3 separate regions of the Homo sapiens genome follow, and regions 2 and 3 are each reported to be linked to region 1. The links are microRNA targets in miRTarBase. Many come from high-throughput screens and were not tested one by one. Region 1 holds a microRNA gene; each other region holds the end of a gene's coding sequence.
Evidence for each region. The annotated mature microRNA hsa-miR-6855-3p reads AGACUGACCUUCAACCCCACAG and lies in region 1 at 2,909-2,930, opposite strand. An mRNA with a match to its seed (bases 2 to 7 or 8) in the 3' UTR can be bound and repressed. Matches are read on the target gene's strand: a 7mer-m8 pairs with bases 2 to 8, a 7mer-A1 pairs with bases 2 to 7 and ends in A, and an 8mer does both.

Region 1 (7,119 bases):
ACAACACCAAAGGTGCAGGCAACCAAAGCAAAAGACACAAACCACAGAATGAAACGCACCCTACAGGATGGGAGGACAGGGTTATAAGTCACGTATCTGGACACATAAAGAACTCCTCTAACTAACGAGGCCGGCACCGTGGCTCACACCTGTAATCCCAGCACTTTGGGAGGCCAAGGCAGCAAATCCATTTGAGGTCAGGAGTTCGAGACCAACCTGGCCAACATGGCAAAACCCCATCTCTACTAACAATACAAAAATTAGCCAGGTGTGGTGGCACGTGCCTATAATCCCAGCTACTCGGGAGGCTGAGATGGGAGGACTGCTTGCACCCAGGAGGCGGAGGCTGCAGTGAGCCAAGATCATGCCATTGCACTCCAGCCTGGGTGACAGAGTGAGACTCTGTCTCAAGAAAAAAAAGAATCCCTATAACAAGCAACAAAAAACAAAATAGGCAAAAGACTCACATAGATGTTTTTCCAAACACTTACAAATGGCCAACAAGCATATGAAAAGACACTTAACATCACTATCATTAGGAAATGCAAATCAAAACCACAACGAGGCTGGGTGCGGTGGCTCACGCCGGTAATCCCAGCACTTTGGGAGACCAAGGCAGGCGGATCACCTGAGGTCAGGAGTTCAAGACCAGCCTGGCCAACATGGTGAAACCCCATTCTACTAAAAATACAAAAATTAGCCAGCCGTGGTGGCATGTGCCTGTAATCCCAGCTACTCGGGAGGCTGAGGCAGGAGAATCGCTTAAACCCAGGAGGTGGAGGTTGCAATAAGCCGAGATCATGCCATTGCACTCCAGCCTGGGCGTCAAGAGAGAGACTCCGTCTCAAAAACAAAACAAAACAAAACAAAAAAAACGCACAATGAGATACCACCTCATACCCATGAGGTTGACTCCCATCAAAAAAGTAAACAAAATGAGTGTGGACGACGATGTGGAGAAACTGGAACTCTTGTGCGTCACTGGTGGGAATGTGAAATGGGGTGGCCACTGTGGAACCCAGTACGGTGGCTCCTCGAGAAATTAAAAATAGGCATAGACCCAAAGGGATGAAAGAAGAGAGGTGTGCACACCCATGGTCAGAGCAGCATTCCTCACAATAGCTAACAGGGAAGCGGCCTGAGTGTCCACTGACGGATGAACGAATAAGCAGAAAGGCCCCAGCCATCCACACAATGGAACAATAAATAACCAGCATACAAAAGGCAGGGCATTCCGACACACACGCTGCAACGTGGATGAACCCTAAGGACGTTATGCTCAGTAAAAGCCGTCAGTCACAAAATGGCAAGTACTGTATAATTCCACTTCTATGAGGCCTTTAGAGTAGTCACATTCACAGACTTGAATGTGGAGGTTGCCAGGGGCTGGGAGGTGGGAGTAGGGAGCTGTTTCACGGATACTGAGTTTCAGGTTTGCAAGATGTAAAAGTTCTGGAGATGAATGGGGAGGATGGCTGCGTGACCATGTGCATGTATTTAACACTACTCGACTGTGCACTTTCTGTTAAAAACAGCATTTACAATGGTTATGGTGGTAAATTTTACATTTTGTGTATTTTATCGCAATTGAAAATTGGAAATAAAAAAAAAAGAGAGAGTTTTCCCAAAGGTTTAGATGCCAAATAGCCAACGGAGAAAAAGAACAAGAACAGGAATGGGCAATGTTTAAATAAATACATAGAGCCAGTATATTTAACAAAAAATGTAGAAACTCATCAGTAATCAAGGAAATGAAAAATTAACATACATCATTTTTGCCCACCAAATTGGTAAAAATAAAAATAAGTGAACACTCAAGAGCTGCAAGATGATGGGGTTGGGATAGCACATGGCCCTGGTCCAGCGTGGCTGGCAGTGGGCGTGGGTATCTGATGGGATCAACCTTGGAAGCCAAGTCTAGCCTGGCTGTGCATCCCACAAGCCCTGGGCTGCATGCTGGCCTGCTGGGGTCTGCACATCCCCGTCCCCACAACCCTCCACCTCCCCGACCCTTGCCAGCCAGGCCCCTCACCCTTTAACTCATCAGCGGCAAAGAAGGCAGCAAGGCAGTCTTCCAGGGTGACGACAGGCCCCCAAAACCAGCTGGGGGTACAGGATACCACAAACCTACAGACAGAAAAGGAGTGCAGGGGTGCTGCCAGGGCCTGGGCAAGAACAGGAGCTGAAGGGACTCTGGCTGAGGTCTGTCAGGCCTGAGCCGCAGAAGGACCCTGAAGGCCCAGAGAAGCAGCCGGGCACGGCGGGTCGGGGCAGAGGCCTGGAGCCAGACACGTCCGTGTCCTGGGCCGAGTGACATCATCTCTCCGCAAGCCTGGCCTCCTTCATCTGTGTTGCGGCCATGATCATGCTACCCCCTCCCTGGGGTCATGCGGGTCTCTGGCCTCAGGCAGGAGAGGCAGCCCTGGGAAAGCTGCTGCCCTTCCCGCCAACCAGGCCTGTGTCCTGCTGCTGCCCTCCCTTCAACCTGCCATGTGGTCACCTCCCTGCTGTCCATCGCCCTCCAGCTCCAAGGGACTATCCAATCCTGGCCACTTCAAAGTAGCCAAGAAATCCCCTGCATATTAAGCCAACTCCTCTGCAGGCTTCGGCCCCCAGCTCCTCCCAGGACCTCCCTGGTTCCCCAAATGCATGGACTTCACTGTGTACTGTCTCCCGCCCAGGAAAACCAGGACAGGCCCAGCCCATGTCGCCCAGTAGTGGCAAGGTGGGCGCACCGTCGGATGTACTCCACAATGAAGGCCAGCCAGCCCTGGGCGGCATAGCTGTCCCCACAGGCGCCTGGCTTGGCCGGCACATTCTGGTAGATGGCTGAATGGAGCTTGGCCAGGTCCTCCTTTCCAGGAATGGGCAGTGATAAGTCCTGGAACGTTTCCACTGTGGTGGATACCTGTGGGGTTGAAGGTCAGTCTGCTGCCCATCCTCTGGCAATGTCTGCACCCCAAACCCCAAGCAGCAGGTGAGGGGCAGAGGGACTACTCCCCAGGCCATAGACACGGGATCCACGCAGGCAGGGCCCTCCCCTGGATAAAAGCAGGGAGCACCCGTGGAGAGCCCACCCTGCACCCAGTCAGGGCAAGAGCTGCTGAGGCCACTGGCAGCCTGGCCCAGCTCCCCCCATCCCTGGGGCACCCACCCGGTCACAGGTGAGACACTGCACAAGGCTGAGAATGGAGCCGTCAAAGATGTCTGAGATGACGCTGCGGTAGCGCTGCTCCTTCCGCCTCCGGCTGCCAGCACTCAATACCTGGGCTGGGGACACAGCACAGGACTAGCCCAGCCTCCACCTGCCTGGCCGGGGCGAGGTGCGGGCCCTGCGGCTTCCTTTGACAGGATGTGGAGTGACATCCGTGAGTCACATGACTGGGTAAGCAATTCACCATCTCATGCCTCTGTGTCATCCTCTGCAAAACGTGGCTCCCACACTGGTGTCTCAGGGGTGTACCTGAGAGGAGCCCATAGCCCGGCCCTCCGCCACAGGGGGCCATGAGAAAGGCAGCTACGGGCGTAATCTGTACTCCCAGCCTCAAGCTGACCCACCCTCCCGTGCCCCCCGAACCTTTCTTGAGCACGTACGACGGTGCCATCCTCACGGGGCTTGCACGAGGGGGGCTGCTAGACAGCTTGGCATGGCCCTCGTGGTGGTGGACGGGGCTGCAGGGGCGAGAGGAGCTGCGTAGGTGAGCATCATTGTCCGGCTCTGGGGGCAGAGAGGGTACCATGCTGGGCCAGGGCAGCCAGGCCAGCTCCACGAGTGGGCAGGAAGATGACCTGCCAGCCCCTCCTAAAGGGACGAAAGCCTGACCCTAATGTGTCTCCTCTGTCATGTGCCCACTCCTGGCCCCAGCACACAGGCCGGAGCAGACCTGTCCAATCCATGTCCGGCTGGAAGGCTCAGGGCTCTGGGAGAGGGCTCTGAATTGGGCTCCAGCATTATGAGCTAGGGGACCCTGGGCACATCACTGAGCCCCCCCGGAGGCTGACTTCCCCACTGTCATTCGGGTCTAGTGAAGAACCCGTCCCCCGGGGGCTACTGCAGGTCGGCGCTCAGCACCCGGTAGGTACTGGGCCATAGGCTGAGGTTCCTCCCGCAGTCCCCGGCCAGCTGATACCTGGCGTCCGGCAGGGGCTGGAGGACCGTGGTGACGGGGGCTGGGCCTCCGCGGGCTGGTCGTCAAGGGCAGCCATGGCAGTGTCCACATCAGCGTCCTCGTCCACTTGCTCCGAGTTTGTACGCTGCTGGCCCCAGGAGAACTTGCGGTCCTTCATCCGCTCCTTCTCAGAGATGGCTCGGCCCGCCTCATCTGGGATCAGCAGCTCCGTCTCGGCCTGCGAGCTGCCCCCGCCACGCCCCTGCCCGTCACCCTCACCCCGGTCACTGCTCGAGTCACAGGACAAGAACTCATCTTCTGATGGGCTCCGGTCACCCTCCCGTTTCTCATCCGTGTCACTCGAATCTGAGTCCCGAGCCTCCGTCAGCGCCACCGTGGCCACCACCGGCTCCTTGAGCTCCTCGTGCAGCTGGTCCATCAGGCAGCGAAGGAACTCTTGGGTGTCCTAGAACCAGGGGCTGCATCAACAGGGCTCCCCTGGAGGCAGGAGGAACCAGTCTCCAGCGCCCTGTGGCTGATGAGAGCGCCAGCCTCCATCTAGGAGGACCTCATGGGCGCCCCCTGCAGAAGAGTTGCTCACCCCCACAGCGGCCTCCCATGGCAGTCTGTCCTAACCCCATTCTTCTGAGGATAACAGTGAGGACTGGAGAGGCTAAAGGACACCTACCAGGACACACAGCTAGAAAGTGTCAGAGCCAGGTATGCACCTGGGTCCATGCAACTCCCCGGCTCCGGCTCTGAATCTCCTGCCTCTGCTGCAAGCTCAGCACGGGAGGGACAGAGAGGCAGTACCACATTAAGCCCGAGCCACCTTTCTCCCTACAGATGAGACCAGTGGAGGTGGGCAGGGGGGTGGCGGAAGGATGAGGGAGTGTGATGCCAAAAGAGGACTCACCCGAGTCCTGCCCCAAGCCACGCTACCCACAGGCCAGACTGCCTGCATGCTCTACCCTTCCTCTGGCTCCCCCTGCTCCCTCAGTCCCTGTGCCAGCCCCCACATACCCTCACTGCCTGCTCTCACCTTCCCACAGACCTGGTCATGACTCAGTCTAAGCTGCCCCTGCAGGCTGCCTGGGTCTCAAATCCCAGCAATGACCATTTTATCCTGACCACTCTGTGACTGGGCCACCAGCACAGCAGGAAGCCAAGGCAGCAGGGGCTCGGGCAGAGGCGCCCAGTGAGCCCCACTGAGATCTGTGTGCTCACACAGGGGGTGCACTGGGAGGTCAGAACGTGGTGGTGGCAGCAGACCCCAGCAGCTAGCGGGTGCTCGGGTGGTGCTGGGCATTGGAGAAGGACTTGGGTTCCGAGCCCAAATCAGCCCCAGCAGTCCCTGACCTGGTTGTTAGAAGCAGCCCTCAGCCCAGGCTCTGATCCCCAGGAGGCAGGGGTCACGTAGCAGCCAGAGCCAGCCTCATGTCACACATCTGGGAAGAGGATCCCGGCTCTCTCCACTCATGTGCAGGGAAGGGAGGGCTCAGGAGGGACTCCCCAAGGCAAAGTGTCAGGCTCCAAGATCAGAGGAATGAACCACGAGGTTACATTGCATCAGGGAGGGGACACGTGTCCTGTGGCAGGCACGATCAAAGGCCCTTTCAAGAAGAGGCTTTCAATCTGCCATCTACTTCTCTTTCTGGTTCTTCCTTTCAACAAAAGTACTATGTGTTCCTTGCCAAAATCTCAATCCATGCAGAAGCACAAAAGAGTCTTTTGGCCCTTAAGAGGCGCCCGCAGCTGCGTCTACAGTTCAGCCTCAGAAGTGTCCCCACACGATATCCTAAAACCACAGAAAGGGATGCTTCTGCCGGAGCCCAGATGGAGTCCTGCCGCAGCGCATGGCCCTCCGTAACGGCATCCTGACCCAGAGCTGAAAGCCGGCAGGGCGCCTTGCACACAGTCAGGGTGGTGCTGTGCTGAGGGATGGGCTCAGGTAGGCCTGAATGCCATCTCTGCCAGGATGTGCTGTGTGACCTGGGTGAGGGGTAGAACCTCTCTGAGCCTCAGCTCTTTACCTGTAACGTGTGGGTGACAACAGTGCCCACTTTGTGAGACTTCTATGAGGACTAAGTTGTGACCACTTAAATGGTGCTCAGTGAATTTTAGTCATTGTGCATGTTATCACTCCCCAAAAAGAGAGGTGTCCAGGCAGTGCTGAGCTTCTCAAGCAGGAGCCAAAGGCCCAGCAGACTTCATCCTGGGACGGGACAGCAGGCAGGGGGTAGAGGGCGGAAGTTGTCCCCACATGACTGCCACTCCGTCCATGGTGCTCATTTCAGGCAGCACAAGAGGTGACCCAGCCAGGTCCAGCTCTGCCTGCAGGCCTGGCATGAAAGCCCAGGCTGTGGGCCATCTGGGGCAGGAGGCTGGAGGGCAGGAGCCATCAGCCCGGGGCTGAGGTGTACGCGTGGCTGCACTCTGTCTTGGTCTCATTATTTTATAAAATAGAAAAATGTGATTGGTTTCAAAAGGGTTCTCTAGATTTAAAAAAAATTTTTAATCAAACTTTTTACTTTAATAAAAGTGAAATTTTGCCTGTGGTTTGGGGAAATGAAACCCTGTGTCATTTTGGGTGCAACGCGGAGGCCCTGCAGCAAGGTTGCCTGGGTTCAAATCTCCCCTCCGCCGGGTGCAGTGGCTCATGCCTATAATCACAGCACTTTCGGAGCCTGAGGTGGGACGACTGCTTGAGCCCGGGAGGTCGAGGGTGCAGTAAGCCATGACTGCACCACTGCACTCCAGCCTGGGTGACAGAGTGAGACCCTGTACCCACCCTCCCCCACAAAAAAAAGAATTCCCCTCCACCATTTACTAGCTGTGTGGCCTGTGCAAGTGGCTCGGCCCCTGAACCTCAGTCTGTCCATCTGTGAAGTGGGGTTAAATGTCAGCAGGTTGCTGGGAGGCTCCACTGTCCTCACACGTGTGAAGGGCTTAGGAGTGAGAGCCTGGTCCGTGAGACCTGCCAACCAGTGCTCAGCTGCCATTGCGATTT
Region 2 (7,119 bases), not on the chromosome of region 1:
CAGGTAAGGATGGCCTGTGTCTGAGGCAGAGATGGCATGATGGGTGCAGGGGTCCAAAAAGGGGGAAGTTACAGATGGTCCCAGTTCCAGCTCTCCTTCCCTCCCTTCCTCAGGAGTTCATGGGCAACTGTTCACAGAATGGGTTTGGGAAGGTCCTAGAGGGGTCTGCGGTGTGCTCAGAGTCCCCTCCTTCATCTGTTTATCTGAACTGGGGGTAGGAGCCTGGGCCAGGTTTGGGGGATATGCAAGCACACATGGGAGTCCTGTGGACACTTATCCCCTCTTTCTGCCCCTCAAGCCTATGTGGGTGCGTTTGGGGTCCCAGGCCAGGTTCTAAGCATGATGGGGCCGGGATGGGGGTCATGGGCACAGTCAGATTCCCTCACTTTTGCCCCCAGAAACTGCATCGGGCAGGCGTTCGCCATGGCTGAGATGAAGGTGGTCCTGGCGCTCACCCTGCTGCACTTCCGCATCCTGCCGACCCACACTGAACCCCGCAGGAAACCCGAGCTGATATTGCGCGCAGAGGGTGGACTTTGGCTGCGGGTGGAGCCCCTGGGTGCGAACTCACAGTGACTGTCCTACCCACCCACCCACCTCTGTAGAGTCCCAGAAACAAAACTATGCTGACACCTCTGCTTGAGCCTCGTTGACAGCCAGCATGGGGCTCCTGGGGACTGGTGGGATCTAAGAAAGGGAGGTGAGTGGGTGGAGGCAGGGTGACGTCTCTGAACCCAAAACCCTGACGGCCTCTCTGGCTGAGCACAGGGCATCTAGGCCCTTAGTGGGTTCTCCCAGAGCCCAAGTAAAAACTTTATCCTGTGGGCAGTAGGGAGCCCTGGGAGGTGTTTGAGCAGGAGAGGGAACAGGATTAAGAATGGGTTTAAGGAGCAAGACTGAGACTCTGATTCAGCGAGAAACAACCATAGGGGCAGATCCCTTCATCTGTCCTGGGAATGTCCTCCCAAGACTGGAGTCCTCAGCTCAGAACAAAGGGAAAGGGGTGCAGCTTCCACCCTGGCAGGCTCTCAGAAATTTTTAGTTCCTTTTTCCACCAACTTCCCACCCCTGTTTCTCCCCCTCCCAGTGCGTTCTCTCTGTGACTCTCTTCCCTTACTTTCAGAGGCATAGGATCTGGAGCCAGACTGCTTGGGCTCAAGTCCTGGCTCTGCTGCGTGACTTGAGCAAGTTAATTCCTCTCTCTGTGCCTCGGTTCCCTCAACCATATAATGGAGACAACAGCATTACCTATATCAGGGTTTTCCTGAGGTCTCAATATAAGGGACTCAGAGCTGTGCCTGGCACACAATGAATGCTAAATATATGGAGCCATTATTATTTCCTGTCTCAGAAAGTCTGGCTGTTAAAGAATGTTGTCTTTCAAGATCGTTATTTCTACCACGACTTTAAAGGCTGTGTTTTGGAACTCAAAGGCAAAAATTCTAATATCTGTGCTCCTTGAACAACCTCTTCTCCTAGAGGGCTGTGCATATAAGATATGTATATATATATATATATTATATATATATATATATACACACACACACACACACACACACACATATATACATATACACACACACACACACACACACACACACACACACACATATATATATATATATATTTTTTTTTTTTTCCTGAGGATGGTGAAGGTACCTGACTGTGTGAGGTGGTAGGAGAATGAGAGAAACCTCAGTCAGTGTCTCAAAATAAAATCCTGCTACAAACATTGATCTCTTTTCATAGCCTAAGGGATGTTGCATCGCTAAACCCTGTTGACTTCTCTAATCTCTTCTGTAGCTGATCTCCTTCCCTTGCTACACTCGGTTACTCTGGCCTTGATTCTGATCTCCAAATACATTATATTTTTTATTTGGGACCATCGTATTGCCTTTGCACCTTTATCAAATATAAGTTGCCTATATTTATTTGGATCTATTTTTTGGGCTTTTAATATTCTGTTCCATTGACCTATTTCTCTTTTCTTTTACCAATACCGCAACATCTTGGTTACTGTAGCTTCACGGTAAGTCTTAAAACTTGGATATTGTCAGTCCTCCAACTATGTTCTACTCCTTCAATATTGTGTTGGTTATTCTGAGTCTTTTGTCTCTCCATATAAATTGTAGAATTAGATTGCTGATATCCATAAAAAAACTTTCTGGAGGGCCCCAGGGAGCGCGGGGCGCCGCTGCTGCTGCTGCTGCTCCTCGGCTGGGTTGTGTCTACTGGGCCCGCGGCTGCGGCGGCAGAGGGGCCTGAGCCGGGAGCCGCGCTCAGCCGAGAGTTGGGCAGAGGGAGTGCCCGCGCCGCCGCGGCGTCATGGGCCCCCTCCCCTCACCTCAGCGGGCACCAGCCGCGGGAACCCCCGGGCCTCCTCGCGCCCGAGCCTGAGCGACCCCTGGGTTCTCCGGCGCCCCCTCCCTCCCCCTATTTTTCTTTTCCTGCTCTTGCTGACCCTACCGCTTCTGTTCTCCGTTATGGCAAGAGAGCCACCATCCCCGCTCCGGGTCGAGGCGCCGGGTCCCCCAGAAATGCGGACCCCACCGGCGATCGAGGCCACCCCTAAGGGCACCCTGCAGCCGGCAGGCGGCAGACTCCGCTTCCTCAGTGGCTGTGTGCCCATCTTGCATCAGGTGGCCGGGCACAGGTATGGGAAGGACAAAATGGGTATACTGCAACATCCAGATGGCACAGTTTTGAAACAGTTACAACCACCTCCAAGGGGCCCAAGAGAGCTGGAATTCTATAATATGGTTTATGCTGCTGACTGTACCGATGGTGTTCTTCTAGAGCTACGACAATATTTGCCAAAATATTATGGCATCTGGCCACCTCCCGCTGCCCCAAACGATTTATACCTAAAACTGGAAAATGTGACCCATAAATTTAATAAGCCCTGTATAATGGATGTAAAGACAGGGCAAAAAAGCTATGATCCTTTTTGCCTCATCTGAGAAAATTCAGCAATAGGTCAGCAAGGACCCATTAATGGAAGAGATTGGGTTCTTGGTGCTTGGCATGAGGGTTTATCTTGTTCATTCCCATAGCTATGAGACACAAACCAACATTATGGAAGAAGCTTAACAAAAGAAGCTATAAAGGATGGAGTCTTCGGATTTTTTCATAATGGGTACTGCTTAATAAAAGATGCTGTTGCTGCCATTATTCAGAAGACTGAGAAAATTCTGCAGTGGTTTGAAAACCAGAAGCAGCTTAACTTTTACGCAAGTTCATTACTGTTTCTTTAGGAAGGTTCATCTCAGCCAATCACTACAAAACTGAATGACAGAAATTTGGCAGAAAAGTTTTTGTCCAAAGGACAACTGTCAGACACAGAAGTACTAGAGTGCAATAATAACTTTCATGTATTAACTTCCACAGTGAATGGAAAAATAGAGGCTTCAGTAGGCAAAAGCTTGTCCAAGATGTATGCCCATCACAGGAAAATGTATACAAAAAAGTATCACAGTCAGACTTCATTGAAAGTTGAAAATCTAGAGCAAGACAATGGGTGGAAAAGCATGTCACAGGAACATTTAAATGGAAATGTACTTTCCCAACTGGAAAAAGTTGTCTACCATCTTCCCACTGGTTGCCAAGAGACTGCTGAAGTGTGCATGATAGATATGGCTGATATGTTCCTTAGCAACACAGTAGATAAGGGATATGTTTATGGGCTAAAGCATTTAATTTCTGTACTTCGAAGTATTTTAGACAATTGAATCATCTGTTGCAGTATTTTTTTTTTTTTTTTGAGACGGAGTCTCTGTTGCCCAGGCTGGAGTGCAGTGGCGCGATCTCGGCTCCCTGCAAGCTCTGCCTCCCGGGTTCAGGCCATTCTCCTGCCTCAGCCTCCCGAGTAGCTGGGACTACAGGCGCCTGCCACCGCGCCCGGCTAATTTTTTGTATTTTTCAGTAGAGACGGGGTTTCACCGTGTTACGCAGGATGGTCTCGATCTCCTGACCTCGTGATCCGCCCGCCTCGGCCTCCCAAAGTGCTGGGATTACAGGTGTGAGCCACCGCGCCCGGCCTGTTGCAGTCTTTTTAAGAGGTGGGCCAATCATAATGAAGAGGAGCAGGCAATATCTCCGCACCTTTAATGCTATGCAAAAAATATGTATTGTGAGTCGACATTTTATTTGTCTTTATACTTTTGGAAGAAAGGTTAACTTTTTTATAATCTTACTCAGGAAAATATATGTTCATTAGAAAACTATGAAGAATAAAGAAACTTAGGAATGTTAAGCAGGGAATGTAGTGGTACATGGCTTAAACATCTTTTTTGGCTCAAGCAAAATGCAAACCATTATTCAGTCATTAAGAGTTTAGTTAGCTTTCTGTAACCAATTCATGAAATCTCTGTCCACCCAATTTGACAATGAGCCATATCTAAAATAATACATTATTAGAACACCTACCAAAATCTCAAAAGCACAGGTTGATGTCCTTAGTCTTGCTATGTATGAAGTTATTAAAACTGGAGAAAGTTCTACTTCAGAAATAAGTACTGCTTAGGTTTTATATTAAAAATTCAGACCAGCATATCAAAGGATGCTTCTTAGTGAAATGATTTAGAATTGCTGCATTCCAAAAGCAGGTTTTCTCTTTAATTTTTACAACTCTCTCTCTCTCTCAAAATATTATACTTCATGAAAAAGACAATTGACATGGATGACAACAAGAGTCTTGAAATTAAGGGCACACTCATTGTTCTTACCAGGGTTAGAAGAGAGAGGTTATTTTCAAGGAACAAATATTTTGCTTTACAACCTCTCGTTTATGAGAAAATTGGAATATAAATTTATTACATTGTGAAAAGTATCATAAACCATATACCTTTTTATCTAAATGCAGTTTCAAAAAAGTAAATAATTGAAGTTTTATTTCTCCTCTAAATAACTGGAATTTTTTTCTTTAAAAATTTATATATTTATATGTCCCCATTTAGTTAAGTGGTAGTGTAAATGTATACTGTTAAAAGTGGTTTCTCAGAATTATAGTAAGCAATGAAAGACAGTATCTAATTAGGTTGTTATCAAAAATACTATGTGTGAATAAGTCCATCATATAGGGCTGGTGTGTATCTAAATTCATGCTTCTATTTCACTGTTACTCAAAACAGTTTTATATTATGTTGAACAGTGAAATTATAATTTAATTTCATGGGGACGGGCAGTGCTATAGTTCCTGGAAAAATTAGATTTGTATTATCTTTATTTCACACCTACCACCTTAGAAAAATCAACTAGTTGTCATTGAAAACATTTAAAACTTTGAGTCTTCAAATACATTTGATGTTAATGCTGTCATTACTTGCACTTTGATTCACTAATAACATTTCTAGGTAGTTACCAGTTTTGTCATTTTTCTGGAAAATATTTTGGAGTTGTAAATTGTTTCTCTTTTTCTTCTAGAGTTACAAATTGAATTTTTAAATCCAAGCACCTTTGTTGTGGTGTGGAGAGAAGTATCACAATTTTATGTTTATTTTACCTTCTCAACCTTCTCTTGGGGTACTTTGCAAATACCTGAGTCTAAACAGAAGTACCAAATACATGCTCTATGAACTCTATCCTTAGTAAATCTATTAAACCTGAATAACTTAAAAGATCATGTGTGTTTTGTAATAGCAAAATTTGATTTTAATTTTTTATTTGGAATTGGTGTATTTATCATGGGGACTTCCAGTTTTTCTTCACTTTGCAAATGGATATTGGCTATAGTTTTATGTTTTAATGGGAATGAATTTCAAGTCAATTAATAATCAGAAAATTTTTAGTTTTACTTTTTTCTTTTACAATATGGACTTTTGTTGTTATTTGGATAGTAGTTCAATAAATCTTAAGCTCAGATAATTAAACACTATTTTGAATCTTAACAAGATACTGAGCATTTTTTTGTATGGGATGATATCAGCCTATGTACAATGAATTTAATAAACTTAAGTATTATCAGATATTTTGCACATTTTAGATCAATAAAATCTGAATTAACTGTTCAAGATTTTTTTATCTGTATTTGGAAATATAATTTTGTAAAATCAATGTCTTACCTTTTTATTACAATAGATCATGTTTTGTATTCAATAAAGCAAGAAGCCCTTTTATCTGTTGTTTTTCAGGGAAGGGAGTAACATTTAATTCTGTTTGTTTACATTTGTTTTCATTGTTATCCAATGCTCATTTTATGTTGCTTTATAAGTAAGCTTAGGTATAACAGAATAAGTATCTGTTTATCTAATCTACATGTGACTACTTTAGTCTCTCTCAGTCACTTAATATTATGCTGAAATTTACCACTGTGGGGATGAATGATCACTATCCAACAAGCGTATTTGAACATGTAAATGCTTAAGAAATAAGTATAATATGGATATAGTTTGGGTTAATAGTATTCTCATAGTTTTTTCCCTCTATGAAACATAAGTAATGATTTTAGTGTATTTCTTATGGAATACACTCATTTATAAAGGACTTTAAGAAATTGTGGATGTGAATAATATCTTTCTCTAGTAAAAATTTAAATTGTAAAAAAAAAACCCAAAACCTTTCTGATATTTTCATTGTGATTTCACTGAATCTATAGATTTAGTTGGGAAGAACTGACATCCTGACAATATTGAGCTTTTTGTCTTACAAGAAATGTTCAAGGGAGTCCTGCATCTGGAAGTGAAAAGAGGATCATTACCATCATGACAACATGCAAAAGTATAAAATCCACTGGCAAAGCAGATACACATAAGAGAAAAGAATCAAACCTTATTACTACAGAAAACTACCAAAACCACAATCGTAAACAATAAGAGAGGAAGAGAGGAATAAAAGATATACAAAACAACTAGCAAACAATGAATAAAATGACAGAAGAAGGTTCTTACCTATAATAACTTTGAATGTAAACAGATTAAATCCCCCACTTAAAATATATAGACTGGCTGAATGGATTTTTTAAATGACCCAACTATGTGCTTCCCATAAGAAACTCACTTTACCTATCAAAAAACATATAGACTGAAAGTGAAGGGATGGAAAAAGACATTCTACCCAAGTGGGAACCAAAATCAAATAGGAGTAGCTATGTTTATATCAGATAAAAATAAAACAGACAAGGGA
Region 3 (7,119 bases), not on the chromosome of region 1:
ACCTGCCTCAGCCTCCTGAGGAGCTGGGATTACAGGCATGCACTACCATGCCCAGCTAATTTTTGTTTTTTGTTTGTTTGTTTTGTAGAGACGGGGGTTTCACCATGTTGGCCAGGCTGGCCTCCAGTGATTGGCCCGCCTCCCAAAGTGCTGGGATTACAGGTGTGAACCACCACGCCCGGCCTGATACCTAATAATTTTTAAAATTGAATCGGTCCTTACAAGTTTGAAACATCACATTTATAAATCAATGTGTAGGGCAGAGAAGAAAATGTTAGGGGGACACATACAAGATTGCCATCCAGGGCACATTTGTTCTATCAATTCCCATCCCCACTCCTTCAACAGATTTTCAGCCCTAGATCTCTTGGTCCCTTAAGAAAAGGCAGCTGTGTTTGGTGTCTTTTTTCTTACCCTGTGTTTGGTTTCTGTTAGGTACAGGCTTTCTGTTGGCACCAACGAGAAGATCCAGCTGAGCTCCCTCATTGCTGCATTTCAAGTCACCAGAGACCTGATTGTTGCAGAGGCCTAGATGCTCTGAGGGCCATTCACAATTCTCAGGGCTCAGCAGTGATGGGAGAACAGAGGACAGTTCCAGGATAAACTGCTGCCTGGGGCTGTGGGATGAATCAGTCACCCCGAATCTTGGAAAAACCCCCTTCCAGGAGAGGATGGGCAGGCATTTAAAAAGTACCATTTTTGTGGTTGTTTGGAGCAGGGATGTACAAAATAATTTTAATGTATTAACTCATACTGCCTGTCTTTTATAGGGGAAAAAAATAACCTTTTTTATTTTAAAGTTATAAGGTTTTTACCTTTTAGTTGCTTGGATGACAGGGAATTAGCCTACCCCATTTTGGTCTGGAACAGAAGACTTTCAAATTTAATATGGTCCAAGTGTCTTCCTACTCAAGGTAAACATTATCTCCAAAATTACATTTATGATTCTAATATTTGGCATTGTGTCTGTATCTAATTTAAACAGATGTTAATGGACGTCTGGCCGAAACTATTATACTTTTATAAGATGAGCTGAATCCTCTTACTTTAAAAACTGGTCTTTTTATTTACCCTCTGTGGTAGAAGAGTCACCAGCAGGTTCCAAATTGATGTGTATGATAGGAAAAAAACCTTAATTTTAAATATAATATAGAGCCTTAAACTATGCCACTGGGTGGCAGAGGCTGTATAAAACGCACTTGTTTTCATGCAGGAGCGGGGCAAGTAAGGTTGAGCCTGACTGTAAACCTAGAACTGCGGAAGGACTGGGACTTTTGTACAAATTTCACATTTATTTTACAGCAATCATGCTGCATTTGTGTTAGTGTTCTTTATAATAAAAAACAAAGCAGCCTCCTGGCTGGCTGTGTTACAAGTGACTCTTCCTTAGACAGCTAGAAAGATGCTGACTTTGTCAAACTTGCATTTATATGAAAACCTTCTGTCTCTAATATCACAGAATAAACTTTCTTTAGATGCTGTTCTTTATAAAATGTCAAATTCTTAAACTGTCAAATGGAAAAAGTCACTATTCCCTTTGTTCATGGAGGACTCACCCCCTTAAGGACAGCGGCAAAGTATGAAGCTAAATATCTGATGGCCAACCAGGCCTCAAACCACCCAGAGGCTCAGCATCTGCTGTACCTGGAACTTCAAGATAACCATGAAATGTAAACGTTGGCCAATCCATTCCCAGCTCTTCTGCTGTACTACTTGTTTTATGTGTTTATTTTTTGAGGCAAGATCATGCTCTGTCAGTCACCCAGGCTGGAATACCGTGACACGATCGTGGCTCGCTACAGCCTCCATGTCCCAGGCTCGAGCAGTTCTCCCACCTCAGCCTCCTGAGTAGCCGGAACCACAGAACCACAGGTAAATGCCACCACATCCTCAGCCCCCTGAGTAGCTGGGGCTACCATGCACACCAGCACCACACTAAGTTTTTTTGGCTATTTATTTATTTATTTTTTAAATAAAGATTGGGTCTTATCTCACTCTGTTGCCCAGGCTGATCTTGAACTCCTGGGCTCAAGCAGTCCTCCCACCTCAGCCTCCCAAAGTGCTGGGATTACAGGCATGTGCCGTCACACCCAGCCCTGCTTGTTTTAAAAGGGGACTTTTTTTTTTCTTAATGGAAAAAAATGAAACAGAGAGCCAAAAGCTTTTAACTGTTGTTTTTTTCTTTTCTTCAATGAAAGCCTCTCATTTTGAAAAGACATGTTTTTCTTCAAGCAACAAAGGTGGTAGAGGAAATTCCTCAACTTTCTCAACGAGTCATGTAACGTTACACTGGCCTCCATAAAGCACCGATTAAGAAAGCTAAAGAATAAGATGTTGTATTTCTTTTAAAATAATTTAAAATATATTAAATTTTCCTAAGGCAGGTTTTGTTTGAATGAGGTGTCTTGATTAGATAACTACATGCCACTGAAGGAGAACAGTACTTTTAAGGAGCTATTTTTGTTTCGCAGTAGAGTTGAAACCAGCTGATTAATCCAATGAAGTTAAACAGCAGAGACAGATCTCGTACATAAGAGTATCAGCTAAAGTCATGACTACACCAATTCTTTACACAATTAAGACATCTTTGCAACTGTTCAATTTAAGTACTATGGTTTTTAGATAATCGAGAAAAACACAGTTGTACCTTAACATCTGTTGAGAAAATACAAATAAATATGATGCTAATAAATGGCCACTGATAACTCAGTAGCCATCTGAATAGTCATGCGGTTTAAGAATACATCCTTGTATAATCTGACATACAAATTTGTCATTTCCTGCACATGCACACCATTGTTAAAAAAAAAAAAAAAAAGCCAGTAATAGTGTCTGGATCGGTCAGGAGCACGGCCTCTGAGTCCCCTGTAATTTAGTTAAGCTAAATTAATACCTCATACCAAATGGCTCCAGGAAAACTGTCCTGCAGGTCAGAAGGGAGCCCAAGAAGAAAAGCACTTGGCCAACATCGAAGCAACTCTGACCACAGCAGGAGAGAACTTGAACCAATGCTACCACTGCATCAGAAACACAAGGATAGGTACTAGGCAGAAGCCATCGTTCCCAGCGGAGGGAGTGTGAGCTGCTCTGCCACTAGAGAGGCTCTGGAGGCCTACTTAGTTGCATAATCAAAACAACATCAGTAACTGCACTTTGAATCAAAACAAGCAGAAAGAGTTCAACACTTGCTGTTCATAACTGGACTGAAAATTTAACGTAAGGCTCTGTTGCCGTGCAAGTGGAATCTCTTCCTCTAAGACTGACTTTCACATGCCAGGGAGAGAAAGATCCATGACTAGTACACTGGAATCTGGTTTTGCTACATTCTATTCACAATCCCAAAGAAATGCTATTTCAATGCAAGACCAGATGTTTGGCCCATTATTCCAGCAACTCCCTTTGACAGGACGATTTACCCTGCTACAAAGAAGCACAAGATGTGGTGTTGCTTAAAAAGTCCTGTATGTGAGGAACTCTTTCATTTTCTTGGGGATTGGCAGTGCTAGGACTTGGTAAGTTGTTAGGAAACTTCGAAGGGCTTTCCGGCATAAGTGCTTCAGTGAGGACAGGACCCTAGGAGCTGTCCAGAACTGGACGTGGCCATCTCTTGTCCTAAAATGAAACAGAAACCGATGCTAAGACAGAGCTTGGATGTTCATGTTTTCATGAGGATGAATACTCATGTTTCTGTTTTGACTGCAAAGAGCAGGAGACTTCGGAGAGTGAAATGTAACCCTGACTGTGGAAATGGATGTAAAATTGTGGTGCTGAATAATTAAAGCTGCTGATAGGATTAGAAAAACTCAAGACACCTGTGATACCAAAGCGCTCTCTCTGTCTCTCTCTCGGCACAGCCCTTTCTAAATCTGACCACAGTTAGTTCAAAAGTATAAGGGGGAAGAGTGCCACCTACTGAATTATAGATGTTACCTGTAAAGTGGTCTTTTAGCCCTAAATGGTTTCCCATATATTATGCATCATCTCAATTTTATTCTCCCTTGTGAACTTGGCCCATTAGGTGGCATGACTTACAGATCTTTAATTACATTTAGGTTAAATATTCAGAGAAAATGGGACACCGTTATTAGCAAAATCGATCATTTGAGTTTTATATAATCTTGAATTGCCTTAAAGCTTTCCTCATAGGCAAGAAAATTCTAGATGGTTTCTTTCCTTAAAAAGCTCCATGGTATACTCAGCAGAAAGCACCACCCATCTGTTCAGCTAACAAATACATACCCTGTGGCAATGACTCCACCATGTGGAAAAAATGTGCAGCAAAGCCCATTGGTCATAGGAGCAAATGCAATGGGAGTTTTCAGTTCCAGGGCCCAGATCCTGAGGAGTCTGGATGGGGAGAGAGAACATCTGGATATTAGCTGACCCAGGGCCAGACCAAGAGGGCCTTGCTGCCATTACTTGCAAGCACTTGTTCTGAGGCCATGTAAAGAGAGTTCTCTTCGTTACCTGTCATCTGCCACCGTGGCAAGGTACAAGCCTTCTGGAGAGAAGCACACAGATCTCAGTGAGCTAATGTGGACGTCACTGTCATCCATGGCGGGGTCAACCTGGGTGTGGCTGGGAAGGAAAGAAACAGGATGGCAGGCCTGGAGTGATGGCTGCTCTCCACCCTCCATCATCACCCTAGGCAGGAAGCCAAACTGCCCTGGCTACAAAAGGGCTCAAGATGCATTGTGTGCCCCTCGTGGAAAAGCTTGGGATTTGCACACTGGGAAAAAAAAGGGTATCTCAGAAGGCTCCAGGTGTCCTGTGGATGAAGGGTTACTAACACTTCCTTGTGCTAATTTGCTTATGCAAAGTAGGTCAGCCCTCACTTTAATGCCACAGTAGAAACTGCAAGTCTTTTTTAGGCTAAGATACATGATAATTATAGGACTGCCTATTATTTGCTTCATAAAACAACAGACACAAAAGGAAAAAGGAGACCAAGTTTGTGAGAACATGAAACTCATTTTGGAAAGCACAGTTTCGATAAGAGGCTCTTTCTGAACTTGTTACTACAGTTATTAGTAAATGGAAATAAAGAGTCATATTGAGGCTTCATAATGCTGATTCCGAAGAAGTACACACAGCCACCTGAATCAGGAGACTGGAAGACACTCAAAGCTACTTGAGAGGGCTTAATTGACAAGGCATCACTAAGAAGCAATGAACCAGGCCAGGCGCAGTGGCTCATGCCTATAATAGCAGTTTGGGAGACTGAGGCGGTGGATCACCTGAGGTCAGGAGTTTGAGACTAGCCTGGCCAACATGGTGAAACCCCATCTCTAATAAAAATACAAAAATTAGCCAGGCCTGGTGGCGCACGCTTGTAGTCCTAGCTACTCGGGAGGCTCAGGCAGCAGAATCGCTTGAACCCGGGAGGTGGAGGTTGCAGTGATCCAAGATTGCGCCACTGCACTCCAGCCTGGGTGACAGAGCGAGACTCCGTCTCAAAAGAGACCCACTGTGCCTTTTTATCCAGCTTGTCCCCTCCCATGTCCCAGATTCTAAAAGAGACATGTCTAATCCCAGGCAGGTTCCTCATCAGTCCCCCCACAAAAAAGTCATAGCAGGGATTCAGTCCTTACTGGAGTGACCTCAGCCTTTCGCCGGTGTAGGGGTCCCACATAATCACATTGGTATCGTAAGAAGCCGTGACAAGCAGGGCAGAGTCGGGGGAGAAGTCACAAGAGACAACACTGCTTTGATGGCCCTCTAGCTTCCGAATTAACGTGTAGGACCTCATGCTCCATAGAAAGACCTGTGGAAAGTAAGAAGTGCCTGGTTAGGGCAGAAGCAAAGTGCTTAGGACTCAAACGGAGGGAGGGAAAGGTACCACCACCAAATCTGCAGGCCCTGCAGCCAGGGCTGATTCTCTATCCCTTTTCTACAGCTCTTCCAGAACGTGTGGTGTAGGTTTAAATAAGGCAACTGGTCTGGATTCTTGAGGATTTAAAACAATGGGCATGCTCAAGGAGCTCACTATAAGAGAGAATAAACCAGATCAGCCTTAGGAAGACCCCTGCTGAAACGCATGTGCAGAGACTTCTGAGTCTGCTTCTGAGTCCTGTTTGCCAATAGGGTAGTCGTATGTGCTGATGAAGACCTGAGCCAAGTGCTATCTTATTCCACTTAAAAATAAATGTCAGCGGCCAGGCACGATGGCTCATGCCTGTAATCTCAGCACTTTGGGTGGCTGAGGTGGGTGGATCACATGAGGCCAGGAGTTCAAGACCAGCTTGGTCAACATGGCAAAACCCCATCTCTACTGAAAATACAAAAATTAGCCAGGCATGGTGGTGCACGCCTGTAAGCCCAGCTATTTGGGAGGTTGAGGCAGAAGAATCACTTGAGCCTGGTAGGTGGAGGTTGCAGTGACCTGAGATCACGTCACTGCACTCCAGCTTGGGCGAAAGAGTAAGACTGTCTCAAATTTTTTTTAAAGGGTCAGAAGTGAAATCTGCGGCCACCCCACAAAGTAGTGGCAGGCTGCCAAGGCATTTTACACCCCCCACCTTGTGTATGGAACCATGGAAATCTGTCCCAAGACTGGGCCTCTGACCTAGCTCATCACTTTAAACCTTTGTGAGAAGCATTAAGAGGATTTTATTTTTATTCCTTTAAGAAAACCCTCAGGCCAGGCGCGGTGGCTCACGCCTGCAATCCCAGCACTTTGGGAGGCCCAGGCGGGCGGATCACCTGAGGTCAGGAGTTCAAGACCAGCCTGGCTAATATGGTGAAACCTCATTTCTACTAAAAATACAAAAAATTAGCCAGGCGTGGTGTAGCACGCCTATAATCCCAGCTACTCGGGAGGCTGAGGCAGGAGAATCGCTTGAACCCGGGAAGCGGAGGTTGCAGTAAGCCGAGATTGCGTCATTGCACTCCAGCTTGGGCAACAACAGCGAAACTCTGTCTAAAAAAAAAAAAAAAGAAAAGAAAAGAAAAGAAAACCCTCCAAACCACAAAAATAAATGATGAACCACCTGGGCTGTACCAAATGGTGAACTCTCAACCTTCCCTTCAGTCACAGCAAGTGACTCAACGCAACACAAAATTCAAACAGAACTGTTCTCAAATTGTTCTTGGATTTCTAATACCTGTTTGTTTTTTCAA

Region 2: miRTarBase lists CYP4F11 as a target of hsa-miR-6855-3p. Seed matches in the 3' UTR shown: 7mer-A1 at 1,696-1,702.
Region 3: miRTarBase lists RFC5 as a target of hsa-miR-6855-3p. Seed matches in the 3' UTR shown: 7mer-A1 at 630-636.

Annotation. Positions count from the first base shown.
Region 1 is chr9:129,865,461-129,872,579 of GRCh38, reverse strand. MIR6855 (microRNA 6855) reads right to left here and starts at 2,975; the gene lies at 2,909-2,975. USP20 (ubiquitin specific peptidase 20) reads right to left here. Exons shown (of 26, transcript NM_001110303.4): 11 at 4,131-4,575; 12 at 3,578-3,718; 13 at 3,155-3,270; 14 at 2,736-2,908; 15 at 2,033-2,127. RefSeq lists an enhancer at 1,861-2,360.
Region 2 is chr19:15,907,189-15,914,307 of GRCh38, reverse strand. CYP4F11 (cytochrome P450 family 4 subfamily F member 11) reads left to right here. Exons shown (of 12, transcript NM_021187.4): 11 at 1-3; 12 at 399-1,931. The coding sequence ends at 576. It also overlaps the pseudogene LOC729654. Among named protein-coding and RNA genes, the nearest start is that of CYP4F2, 13 kb to the right of the region's middle.
Region 3 is chr12:118,030,747-118,037,865 of GRCh38, forward strand. It overlaps RFC5 (replication factor C subunit 5), which reads left to right. Exons shown (of 11, transcript NM_007370.7): 11 at 436-1,488. The coding sequence ends at 532. WSB2 (WD repeat and SOCS box containing 2) reads right to left here. Exons shown (of 9, transcript NM_018639.5): 6 at 5,592-5,764; 7 at 4,468-4,578; 8 at 4,240-4,347; 9 at 1,941-3,612. The coding sequence ends at 3,450. Among named protein-coding and RNA genes, the nearest start is that of RFC5, 18 kb to the left of the region's middle. RefSeq lists enhancers at 4,867-4,926, 4,937-4,986.